Linked DNA regions of Homo sapiens. The protein of the gene in region 1 purifies or fractionates together with the protein of each later gene. This does not show direct contact. Each region holds a gene or a part of one and is shown in the gene's direction. Other genes may lie near its edges. The genes, in order: FHOD1, CA10 and TARS1.

The links.
Region 2: the proteins of FHOD1 (region 1) and CA10 purify together in Homo sapiens (co-immunoprecipitation; one large-scale study listed by IntAct). This does not show direct contact.
Region 3: the proteins of FHOD1 (region 1) and TARS1 fractionate together in Homo sapiens (co-fractionation; one large-scale study listed by BioGRID). This does not show direct contact.

The regions. Positions count from the first base shown.
Region 1 is NC_000016.10:67,230,482-67,234,134, reverse strand, and holds part of FHOD1 (FH1/FH2 domain-containing protein 1), read left to right. Parts: coding exon 1-478; intron 479-1,940; coding exon 1,941-2,096; intron 2,097-2,296; coding exon of another isoform or gene 2,297-2,315; coding exon 2,316-2,498; exon of another isoform or gene 2,499-2,499; intron 2,500-2,585; coding exon 2,586-2,705; intron 2,706-2,785; coding exon 2,786-2,947; intron 2,948-3,343; coding exon 3,344-3,534; intron 3,535-3,628; coding exon 3,629-3,653. UniProt on the Homo sapiens protein: Required for the assembly of F-actin structures, such as stress fibers. Depends on the Rho-ROCK cascade for its activity. Contributes to the coordination of microtubules with actin fibers and plays a role in cell elongation.
Region 2 is NC_000017.11:52,152,084-52,155,736, reverse strand, and holds part of CA10 (carbonic anhydrase-related protein 10 precursor), read left to right. Parts: intron 1-3,653. UniProt on the Homo sapiens protein: Does not have a catalytic activity.
Region 3 is NC_000005.10:33,450,894-33,454,546, forward strand, and holds part of TARS1 (threonine--tRNA ligase 1, cytoplasmic), read left to right. Parts: intron 1-1,447; coding exon of another isoform or gene 1,448-1,546; intron 1,547-2,395; coding exon 2,396-2,519; intron 2,520-3,653. UniProt on the Homo sapiens protein: Catalyzes the attachment of threonine to tRNA(Thr) in a two-step reaction: threonine is first activated by ATP to form Thr-AMP and then transferred to the acceptor end of tRNA(Thr).

The DNA.
Region 1 (3,653 bases):
CCCCAAGGCTGAGCCCATCTGGGAGCTCCCTACCCGTGCACCCAGGCTCTCTATTGGGGACCTGGACTTTTCAGATCTAGGGGAGGATGAAGACCAGGACATGCTGAATGTAGAGTCTGTGGAGGCTGGGAAAGACATCCCAGCTCCCTCACCCCCACTGCCCCTGCTCTCGGGAGTACCCCCCCCTCCCCCACTTCCACCTCCCCCACCCATCAAAGGCCCCTTCCCACCACCTCCACCTCTACCTCTGGCTGCCCCTCTTCCCCATTCAGTGCCTGACAGCTCAGCCCTCCCCACTAAGAGGAAGACAGTAAAACTTTTCTGGCGTGAGCTGAAGCTGGCTGGGGGCCATGGAGTCTCTGCAAGCCGCTTTGGGCCCTGCGCCACCCTCTGGGCTTCACTGGACCCTGTCTCAGTGGACACGGCCCGACTGGAACACCTCTTTGAGTCTCGTGCCAAAGAGGTGCTGCCCTCCAAGGTAAATCCACTCATCTGCAAGGTAGCCCCAAGGGAGGCAGGAGGGAATCAGAGCTTAAGGATCTGACCTGTTGGAGCTAGTCACTCACTTCCCACATGGGGAAACCAAGGCAAAGAAAGGAGTAGGAAATTGTCCAAGGTCTCCTAACAAGGGATCAGCAGTGCCCCAACTAGAATCTAAATGTGGCCGGGCATGGTGGCTCACACCTGTAATCCAAGAGTTTGAGACCAGCCTGTGCAACATAGTGAGACATTATCTCTACTAAAAGTTGGTCTGGGTGTAGTGGCTCATGCCTGTAATCCCAGGACCTTGGGAGGCCGAGGCAGGTGGATCATTTGAGGTCAGGAGTTCGAGACCAGCCTGGTCAAATTAGCAAAACCCCGTCTCTACTAAAAACACAAAATTAGCCAAGCGTGGTGGCGGGCACCTGTAATCCCAGCTACTCGGGAGGCTGAGGCAGGAGAATCACTTGAACCCGGGAGGTAGAGGTTGCAGTGAGTCGAGATCGCACCATTGCACTCCAGCCTGGGGGACAAGAGCAAGACTTCGTCTCAAAAATAACTAAATAAATAAAAATAAATAAATGTTAAAAAAAAAATTAGCCGGGCATGGTGGCTCACCCCTGTAATCCCAGCACTTTGGGAGGCCAAGGCAGGCAGATTACTTGAGGCCAGGAGTTTGAGACCAGCCTGGCCAACATGGTGAAACCCCGTCTCTACTAAAAATATGAAAATGAGCTGGGCGTGGTGGCTCATGCCTGCAATACCAGCTACTTGGGAGGCTGAGGCAAAAGAATTGCTTGAACCTGGGAGGCGGAAAAAAAAATGTTAAAAAAAAAAATAGTTGGGTATGGTGGTACACGCCTGTAATCCCAGCTACTTGGGAGGCTGAGGCAGGAAAATCCCAGAAGATAAGCTGCAGTGGGCGATGATGGCACCACTGCACTCCAGCCTAGATGGTAGAGCCAGGCCCTGTCTCAAAAGAATCTAAGCTCATCCCCATGACTTACACATTCCAGGTTGCCAGTTTGTCAGTTGTGGGATCATTTGGCAATCTAGAGGAGGGCCTTGGAGTGCCCTCTGAGGTTGCTGTCCCAGCTAGTCCCTTCCTCAGTCTTTTTTTTTTTTTTTTTTTTTTTGAGACAGAGTCTTGCTCAGTCACCCAGGATGTAGTGCAATGGTGTGATCTCAGCTCACTGCAAGCTCCGCCTCCCGGGTTCACGCCATTCTCCTGCCTCAGCCTCCCGAGTAGCTGGGACTACAGGTGCCCGCCACCACGCCCAGCTAATTTTTTTTGTATTTTTAGTAGAGATGGGGTTTCACCATGTTAGCCAGGATGGTCTCGATCTCCTGACCTCGTGGTCCACCCGCCTTGGCCTCCCAAAGTGCTGGGATTACAGGCGTGAGCCACCGCGTCAGGCCCCCTTCCTCAGTCTTACACTGCCCTTCCCCCAACCATGCAGAAAGCTGGAGAGGGCCGCCGGACAATGACCACAGTGCTGGACCCCAAGCGCAGCAACGCCATCAACATCGGCCTAACCACACTGCCACCTGTGCATGTCATTAAGGCTGCTCTGCTCAACTTTGATGAGTTTGCTGTCAGCAAGGATGGCATTGAGGTGAGGTCACCCAGCTATGGGTGTTGGGGGGAGGTCTGGCCTTCTCCTTTGGTAGGTGGGCATTTCCTGTCCCTCTGGTGGTGGGCATGGGCTTGGCATTTCTGCAGGGCAGTCCCCAGACACTGGGGCCTCCCCTAGATGACTGAGGGGTCAAGACCAATGCCTCAGGCCTCAGGCCTGCATTGAGGGGGCCATGTCAGGCTCTGGCTACATCCTCAGAAGCTACTGACCATGATGCCCACGGAGGAAGAGCGGCAGAAGATTGAGGAAGCCCAGCTGGCCAACCCTGACATACCCCTGGGCCCAGCCGAGAACTTCCTGATGACTCTTGCCTCCATTGGCGGCCTCGCTGCTCGTCTACAACTCTGGGCCTTCAAGCTGGACTATGACAGCATGGAGCGGGTACCTGGGTCTTGGAGTGGGACAGTCAGTAGGGACAGGTAAGCATCATGACCATGTAGTCTGAGAGTCCCTGGTCTCCCATACCAGGAAATTGCTGAGCCACTGTTTGACCTGAAAGTGGGTATGGAACAGCTGGTACAGAATGCCACCTTCCGCTGCATCCTGGCTACCCTCCTAGCGGTGGGCAACTTCCTCAATGGCTCCCAGGTGAGTGAGAGTACATGGGGACTAGGGGGAGTCAGGGTTCTGGAGCCAACCAGGCCCAGGCTCAGAAAGGGTCCTTTCAGAGCAGCGGCTTTGAGCTGAGCTACCTGGAGAAGGTGTCAGAGGTGAAGGACACGGTGCGTCGACAGTCACTGCTACACCATCTCTGCTCCCTAGTGCTCCAGACCCGGCCTGAGTCCTCTGACCTCTATTCAGAAATCCCTGCCCTGACCCGCTGTGCCAAGGTTAGCACCTGCCAGAATCAACCAAGGCCGGACAAGGCATGAGGAGCGCTGCTTCCTGGGCCTGGCTCCTCCCCCTTCTCCCCATTTGGGCTGCTGTGCCAGGGCTTGCTCCAGCCACCTGGGTGTGAGCTATGCCCTCTGCCAGAAATGCTCTTTCCTCTATTGGCCTGGCCACACCTACTCAGTCTTTGGGTCTGTTTAACTGCCACTTCCCCCAGTAAACCTTCTGCTCCCCATTCACATCAGATGGACTTGTGTCTCTTGCACTAGTCTATGAGATTTGGATGTCTGTGTCCTTAGGGCCCAAGCTGGCCACTCTGGCCCAGAAGCAGCCTCGGGCCATGTCTTGTCTACAGGGTGTGGGGGGACAGTATGTGCACCCCCTTGCTTTCTCAGGTGGACTTTGAACAGCTGACTGAGAACCTGGGGCAGCTGGAGCGCCGGAGCCGGGCAGCCGAGGAGAGCCTGCGGAGCTTGGCCAAGCATGAGCTGGCCCCAGCCCTGCGTGCCCGCCTCACCCACTTCCTGGACCAGTGTGCCCGCCGTGTTGCCATGCTAAGGATAGTGCACCGCCGTGTCTGCAATAGGTAGGGGCATGGACCCAAGAGAGGCAGGACGGCCACCACCCTCCCTCAGACAATAAGCAGGACTTACTGTCCCTCCCTACTCTGACCTGCCTAGGTTCCATGCCTTCCTGCTCTACCTG
Region 2 (3,653 bases), on another chromosome or scaffold:
AAAACTAGGTTAGCGTTCCAAATGCCTAGTTAGGATCTGCATTAATTTGCACTTTATGAAGACATTTAGGCAGGGATGCAACATCATATACTCTTTATTTTACACATCCATAAACTTTAAAAGGCCATTTCTTCTCCATGGTCAGGGTGGCCTCATCCTCCTGTAAGCAGAGCCACTCATTCAGTAATGCCCATGTATGTGAGAATTATTATTAGTAATATGATTATGACTCACAATTGCTACAGTTTGGGAGACTCAGACTCCATTCTTTTTCCATCTGGCAGCCTTAGGATGTATAGGAAATGCAATGCACTAAGGTTGAATATTTGTGGCTTTGAGAGAGTTTAGTGGATCTTTCATTTCTGTCTCCATGATTTGCAGTTTTAATTTACTCATGACTGAGCTCTATTGAAAGGAACATAACCCTGTGATCATAGAATCTACTAAATCTTAAATTAAAAATATTAAAAACAAAGCACCTCTTTAGCATCTTGGAATGAATTTTCCTGACCACTAAGTGGGTGCTAATCCTTACAGAGTTACCAGACATTGATACTTGAAGCATTGATAGAGTTGGCTTCATTATTGAGAAACACCAGGCTGGAAAAGGCTAGTAAAAGTCTGTAGTCTAAACACTTTACAGAAGGAAAATGTTGGTAGTAGCTTTGTCATGTGGAAGATATATTGACTGAATTTCATTTGGTGGCATTTGCTTTCAGGAAAACATTGGCGCTTTGTAGCTTAGTGTTTTGTTAACCAAAGGTTCCAACACTTCCTCTAACCCACCCCCAAATTTCTCCTTGGGCCTATTTGGATATATTGCTTAAAGTACAGACACCTGGGCTTGGCATATTTGGTGGTTCTGCACTAATAATTTGGTTTTGATGAAACTGTTGGAAAATGAGACTGTTTGGCCAGGCTTAGCTAGATGCTGGGTCAGTAGCATGTATGTCTTTTATTTGTGAGATCACATCAGCTTTGGCTACTTAATGCAACATAGCTAGGCTAAAGGGCATGATTTGGGAGTTCCTCTGGCTTTCCGTTAAACTCAGATCTCACTTTTCTGAAAATGTAAGGCATCCAGGGTCTGTGAAGAGATCAGAGACAGAAAGAGAGAGGGAGAGAGAGAGAACCAGAATGATTTTTCCGTGTACTGCAAGAGCACCATTCCCTTCCTACCAAAGCAGCTCAGATCAGCAAGAATGTATGCTTAGCAGCACGAGGAGAGAAATTTCTTGGTCAAACGAGAGCTGCCTGATTTAATTTTTACAATGCATCCTACTTCCTCCTTATGTAACTTTACTTCTTTGTCAGTTTATTCATAATAATAACATCAATAACCATTTGAATTATGTGGTATTTTCACACATTGTACATATATTGCACATATTTAATTCATCTATTCTTAGAATTTGTGGGATAATCTTATAGATATAGCAACCAAAGCCCACAGAGCTTCAGACTAGAGGTTTCACATCCAGGTCTACCTGAGTCAAAATTCAGTATATCATTTATGTTTTGGTTCAAGATTCCTTTCAAATATTTTTATTTAATATTTTTTATTTTGATGTCTCTGAAAGAATAAATTAGGTTAAATGAATTGAAGTCTTAGAGAATTTGGAAGTAAAAGTTTTAGATGATTACAATTTAGAGCTAGAATTAAGGTAGCATTTGAGTTGTACATTACCCTGTCAATCAAACAGATGAGGCTATTACCCAAATGCCTCTAGCATCTTAGGATCAGCAATCTCTACAAGCAAGGAATATTTCCTACACTGTTTTCCTAATCTTAACATTAAAATGGCATAACTTCAGTTTCCTTATGTGTAGAAAAGAGATAACAGTACACGTGTCACATGTTTGTTCTATCAACTAAATGAGATATTATGTCCAATGATTTTCACACAGCACAGTTTCTACCACATAGTAAGCATGCAATAATGTCATTATTTCCTACAAATCTGACATTGTATAGGCTTGGTTCATGGTGGAGTAGAGCTTTTACCTTTTTCCATATCAACTTGTTTAAAAGCAAAAAGAAAACCATCATCAGCAAGCACATCTATAACATTGAGCACAAACCCTATTTTCCAGGAAGCCTTGGCTAAATAATTTTGAAAAGTCTCTTAATTTTCCTTCTCATACAAATGAGACTGGTAGCATTAAGCTTTGGTGCATAGTCATAACTGTAACCCACTTTATCCCTATGAGTCCAATATGGAGTTGAGGCTTGGAAAGTTTACTAAACTACCTGGAAACCATGTAGTACTTATTACCCAGGGGATCAGCGAATTTTTCTTTCAGTTGTATATTACAATGCAGTATAGACCCAACTTTAAAGTGCCTCAACACTGGCAAACGACATATGCTTTCAATATGGCTTGAAATAGAATGTCCCATCAAATAAAAAGCCCCACCCTTACAATGACTATTTATCTGATGATCTCATTAGCAATGTGGTTTCTTTAAATCCAGTTTCCCATGTGATGTCATATAGCCCAGTTACTGACAGATAACCATCATCATAGATAAAACTCTCCAGATAGTGAGTCAAGAAAGTCTTTTGGAGTTGTATGAAATCCCAAGGGAAAAAATAAATGTTGATGTGAATACCCAGTCCCTTGGCTGGGGAGAGGGGTTTGATTACTAGCCTAAGTCAGTAACTAATGTCTCAGTTTATCACCTTAATTAAGCATTACATACTTGGGACTAAGGTCAAAAAGAGATCTAGGTATCATAAATGTGTATGATAGCAAGCCATTATAGAAAGAGTATGGAAATCAGAAGACCTATCCTTCAACGTGACTCTACCTTCATTACCTTTATAAATTTGGGCAGTTTTCTTTACCTCTCAGAATCTCAATCCTCATCTGTAAAATAAAAATTATATTTGCTTTGCCTATTTCAAAGCATTGCTGAGGGAAACTTCAGAGAGTGATTCTTGAATAAATATTTTTTGCATTATGCAAGTGTAAAGCATCTGTGTCATTACTATATATGATCCATACTTAAGATATAGTTATAGAAGCAAAGTTGAGATACATACACATAGTTTAGAATGATATAAAGTAATATGAGTAATGTTTATTTGTTAAGATATTATTATAAATGCAAAGTTGTAATGCTAAAATGCATTGTGATATAAAGGAATAGGAATAATGTCTAATTGTTTAATAATTGGCATAAATTGTATAGAAGGGAGAAGTTTAGACATGAAAGAAAAGGAGTATATTAGATTGATTTTGGAGGTTTGGATGAAAGAGACAGAGGGGACCTCATCATCAAAAAGGAGGAATAGAAACAAGAGGATGTACGCTAAAGAATGTCCCAACTGAAACAAAAAATTCACTTTGGGAGATACTGGAAAGTTGGGATGAGCCCACTTAGGGAGCTATTGAATTGAGAGAATATGAAGTGTCCTAATATGGTTATTCACTTTGTGACTTTCGTTTTTGTATTAAGGATCTTTGCAACGGTTCAATGGATTCTTTGTTAAAATTTGTTTGAAATTCTAACATTTCTTTGGATTTTAAATTTCTGTTGCATGTCTACAACTAGCACTGTACTTTATATAGTTTGTAGCCTGTTTGAGATTGTAGACAGTTGAGTTGGAATTTTTTCGTAGGGGGTGAACTGGAGGGGGCTGGAGGTAG
Region 3 (3,653 bases), on another chromosome or scaffold:
CACCTGAGGTCAGGAGTTCAAGACCAGCCTGGCCAACATGGCGAAACCCTGTCTCTACTAAAAATACAAAAATTAGCCAGTCATGGTGGCGCACACCTGTAGTCCCAACTACTTGGAGGCTGAGGTGGGAGGATAGCTTGAACTCGGGAGGTGGAGGTTGCAGTGAGCCAAGATTGAGCCACTGCACTCCAGCCTTGGTGACAGAGCGAGAGTCCGTCTCCAGGGAAAAAAATAAAAGGTTGAATTACATAAAACATTGATGGGCTTTAGCTCTGGAGTTAAGTCACTGATCTGCACTGAGAATACTTTATGAAATTTTTACAAAAGTCCAGAATAACTTTTTGTTCTGTGAAAAATTATAACATTGATAACAGGCTATTTAAAGATTCACATAATTAGTGGTGAATATGAAAGGGAAGGACAAAAAAGACATGTTCCATTTGCGTCAAAAGGTTTTTCTTTGAAGTTTTGTTATAAATCTTTTTTTTTTTTTTTTGAGACGGAGGAGTCTCGCTCTGTCGCCCAGGCTGGAGTGCATTGGCGCCATCTTGGCTCACTGCAAGCTCCGCTTCCTGGGTTGACGCCATTCTCCTGCCTCGGCCTCCTGAGTAGCTGGGATTACAGGCGCCCGCCACCACGCCTGCCTAATTTTTGTATTTTTAGTAGAGACGGGGTTTCACTGTGTTAGCCAGGATGGTCTTGATCTCCTGACCTCGTGATCCACCCGCCTCGGCCTCCCAAAGTGCTGGGATTACAGGCGTGAGCCACTGCGCCTGGCCGTTTTGTTACAAATCTTAAAGATTATTTTACCCTTCTTTGAAAAATTGAAATGATCCAGTATGGCCCATGTGTAATCTACATTTTCAGAGTAACTCTATTCTTAGAATCTTGGGGCTCCATATTGGATCATAAGATAAAAGTCATGTTCTTCCCAAAGAATATAGAGAATATGATTATCCTTTTTATCAGTTCTTTAATCTCCTGAAAACTGTTTTACACCAATATGATGAAATACATTTCTCTCTGCCAAATTCATGTTATGTTTTGTGAAATGCATGTATTTATTTTATTGACTCCATCTGATCTCAGGAGGAAAGAAAACATTGTTTATAACCTATGGTAAAGTTAGTAGGAGCATTGAAAATAGAAAGGAGTTTGTTGTTTACTTTCTGTTTGGTTCTTTTCTCTTGATCCTCAGATAGGAGTTGTATACATTTTGTTGTAAACCCTTAGACATAGAGAGCCACCAACACAGCAAGCCTGGCTAGCTTAAAGCCTTCTAGTGGTAGGTTTCTTTGAGATTTACAGTGTAAAGGGTGTATACTTTTTCTTCACAGTGTAGAATGTTGCCTACCTTCGTTGAGATGTCCAGGCTGTTATAGACTATTATTTCTCTAGCTGTGCATTTAGATGTATAATCTGGCTCACCTACTCAACTCTGCTCTAGTCACACAGCTTCCTGCAAAAACCTCTCTTCACTTGCATCTCTGCTTGCATCTGTGGCCATTCCCTCATCTGGAATGCCATGGCCTCCTCTTTTCTTCCTGTGAGTGCTTTATCCTCAAAGCCTTTCCAGATGACTCTGACCTGTACTGCTTTCCCTCCTCAGAACTCCTGTAGCTTTTACACTCTGTGTGCTCTGATATTTCATCACTTGATGATACTTTATGTTCGATGTTGTATATTGGGTGTGTAATGTTTTTACTCACATTATATGGAAAGTTTTATTAAATAGTCTTTCATTTTACCTCTATATTTGTTATAAATATTATCATAGGCATTTGCAGAATTTATTCTGAGGTTAGCATTGTCTGTCAAAGAAAGGATCTGGTGTACATTTTAAGCAGGAAGAGGAACAGAGAAGTTATTTAGTAGGCCTTTTTTTTTTCCTTTGGAGTCTACATAGCTTAGCTTTGTAGAAAGAGAAAGGTGGGTGTATTAAGAGAAAACTCGGTGTGGTGACTTGTGCCAGTTGTCCCAGCTACTCTAGAGGCTGATGTTGGAGGATTGCTTCAGGCCAGGAGGCCAGCCTGCGCAACATAGCAAGACCCTGTCGCTAAAAAATTAAAAAAAAAAAAACTTATTTGTTGGAGAAATTAAGATTATTCAAACCATTGGAAATTGATAGTGCTTATTTATCAGAGTTGCCATATCTGCTTAAACAGGAGGCATTCAATGTCAAATGATAATGTTCTGCATTTTCAGGATCTTCCAGTTAGGTTCTTAGGTACATTTTTGGAATTTGTTGTTTTTATCATTATATTTCAGAAAAATAGAGATACATCAATATAAAAAAACAATATATAATAAAAATAGTGTTTATTTTCCTGTTTTCAAATTAGATTCGTGTGTACTTATATATGTGTGGACTTTTTTTTTTTTTTTTTTTTTTAAGTCAAGGCCTGGCCGACAACACCGTTATTGCTAAAGTAAATAATGTTGTGTGGGACCTGGACCGCCCTCTGGAAGAAGATTGTACCTTGGAGCTTCTCAAGTTTGAGGATGAGGAAGCTCAGGCAGTAAGTTGCTGATTAGTATTCATTGAATTTTAGGATGCAGATTCACATTTGAAGTCTTTTCCAGCTCAGTCCTGCTGCGATTGGGTGGCTAACATTTATTGTTGTCTCACTGTCATATTTGAAATCTTCATTTTGTCCTTCATTTAGGGAACATAATAAAAGTGCTTGCCTTAGAAAATAAAGGGGTGAAGCTGAATAAGTCTTTTCATTACTAGACACTTCAATAGGGAAAATGTTTTGGGAATTGTATTAAACATTGATTAAGCAAGTAAAAATTGTTTTCTAAACTGTGAACACTATTTTATTTTAATTTTTTTTTTTTTTAATGATGGAGTCTTGCTTTGTCACTCAGACTGTAGTGCAGTGGTGCGCTCTTGCCTCAGTACAACCTCCACCTCCCAGGTTCAAGCTATTCTCCTGCCTCAGCCTCCCAAGTAGCTGGGATTATAGGAGCGCACTACCACACTTGGCTAATTTTTGTATTTTTAGTAGAGATGGGGTTTCACCATGTTGGCCAGGCTGGTCTTGAACTCCTGACCTCAAGTGATCTGCCCACCTCGGCCCCCCAAAGTGCTGGGATTATAGGTGTGAGCCACTGTGCCTGGCCTCTAAGCTATGAACACTCTAGCAAGATATGTACATTTGACAAATAAATTTGAACCTTACTTCAAAGCACTGCCTTTATTGGATAATTTCTGTATTTTTTTCTCATCTTAAGATGCAAATCTGCTGGATAACACTATAAAAGTCAACCTGCATGTGATGACAAGATTTTCTTTTTAATTCTCCATGGCTGTGTATCATATAAGGGGAGACAAAGTATTTTGTTTTAGTGATGATTGTTCACTTATGTATGTGGATTAGTGGTTTTCAAATGTATTTTGGAGCCCTCAAGTTTCTTACGAGAATTTTTTAATGTCACTTTGGTACCTTAATACTAAATCTTGAAAACATTGCTTTGGGTGTATTCTGACTCATCCCAGTGATTACTTTAAAACCAAGTACTGCCATTTGATTTCAGTGTACAGATGTTTGTCCTCGTGTTTTGTCATTGTGTTGTGGGGTCGGGTTGTACCACCTTTGTTTTGGGCCAGTAACAACATGTAATTTCTAAGTGATGTTCCATAGCCAGCT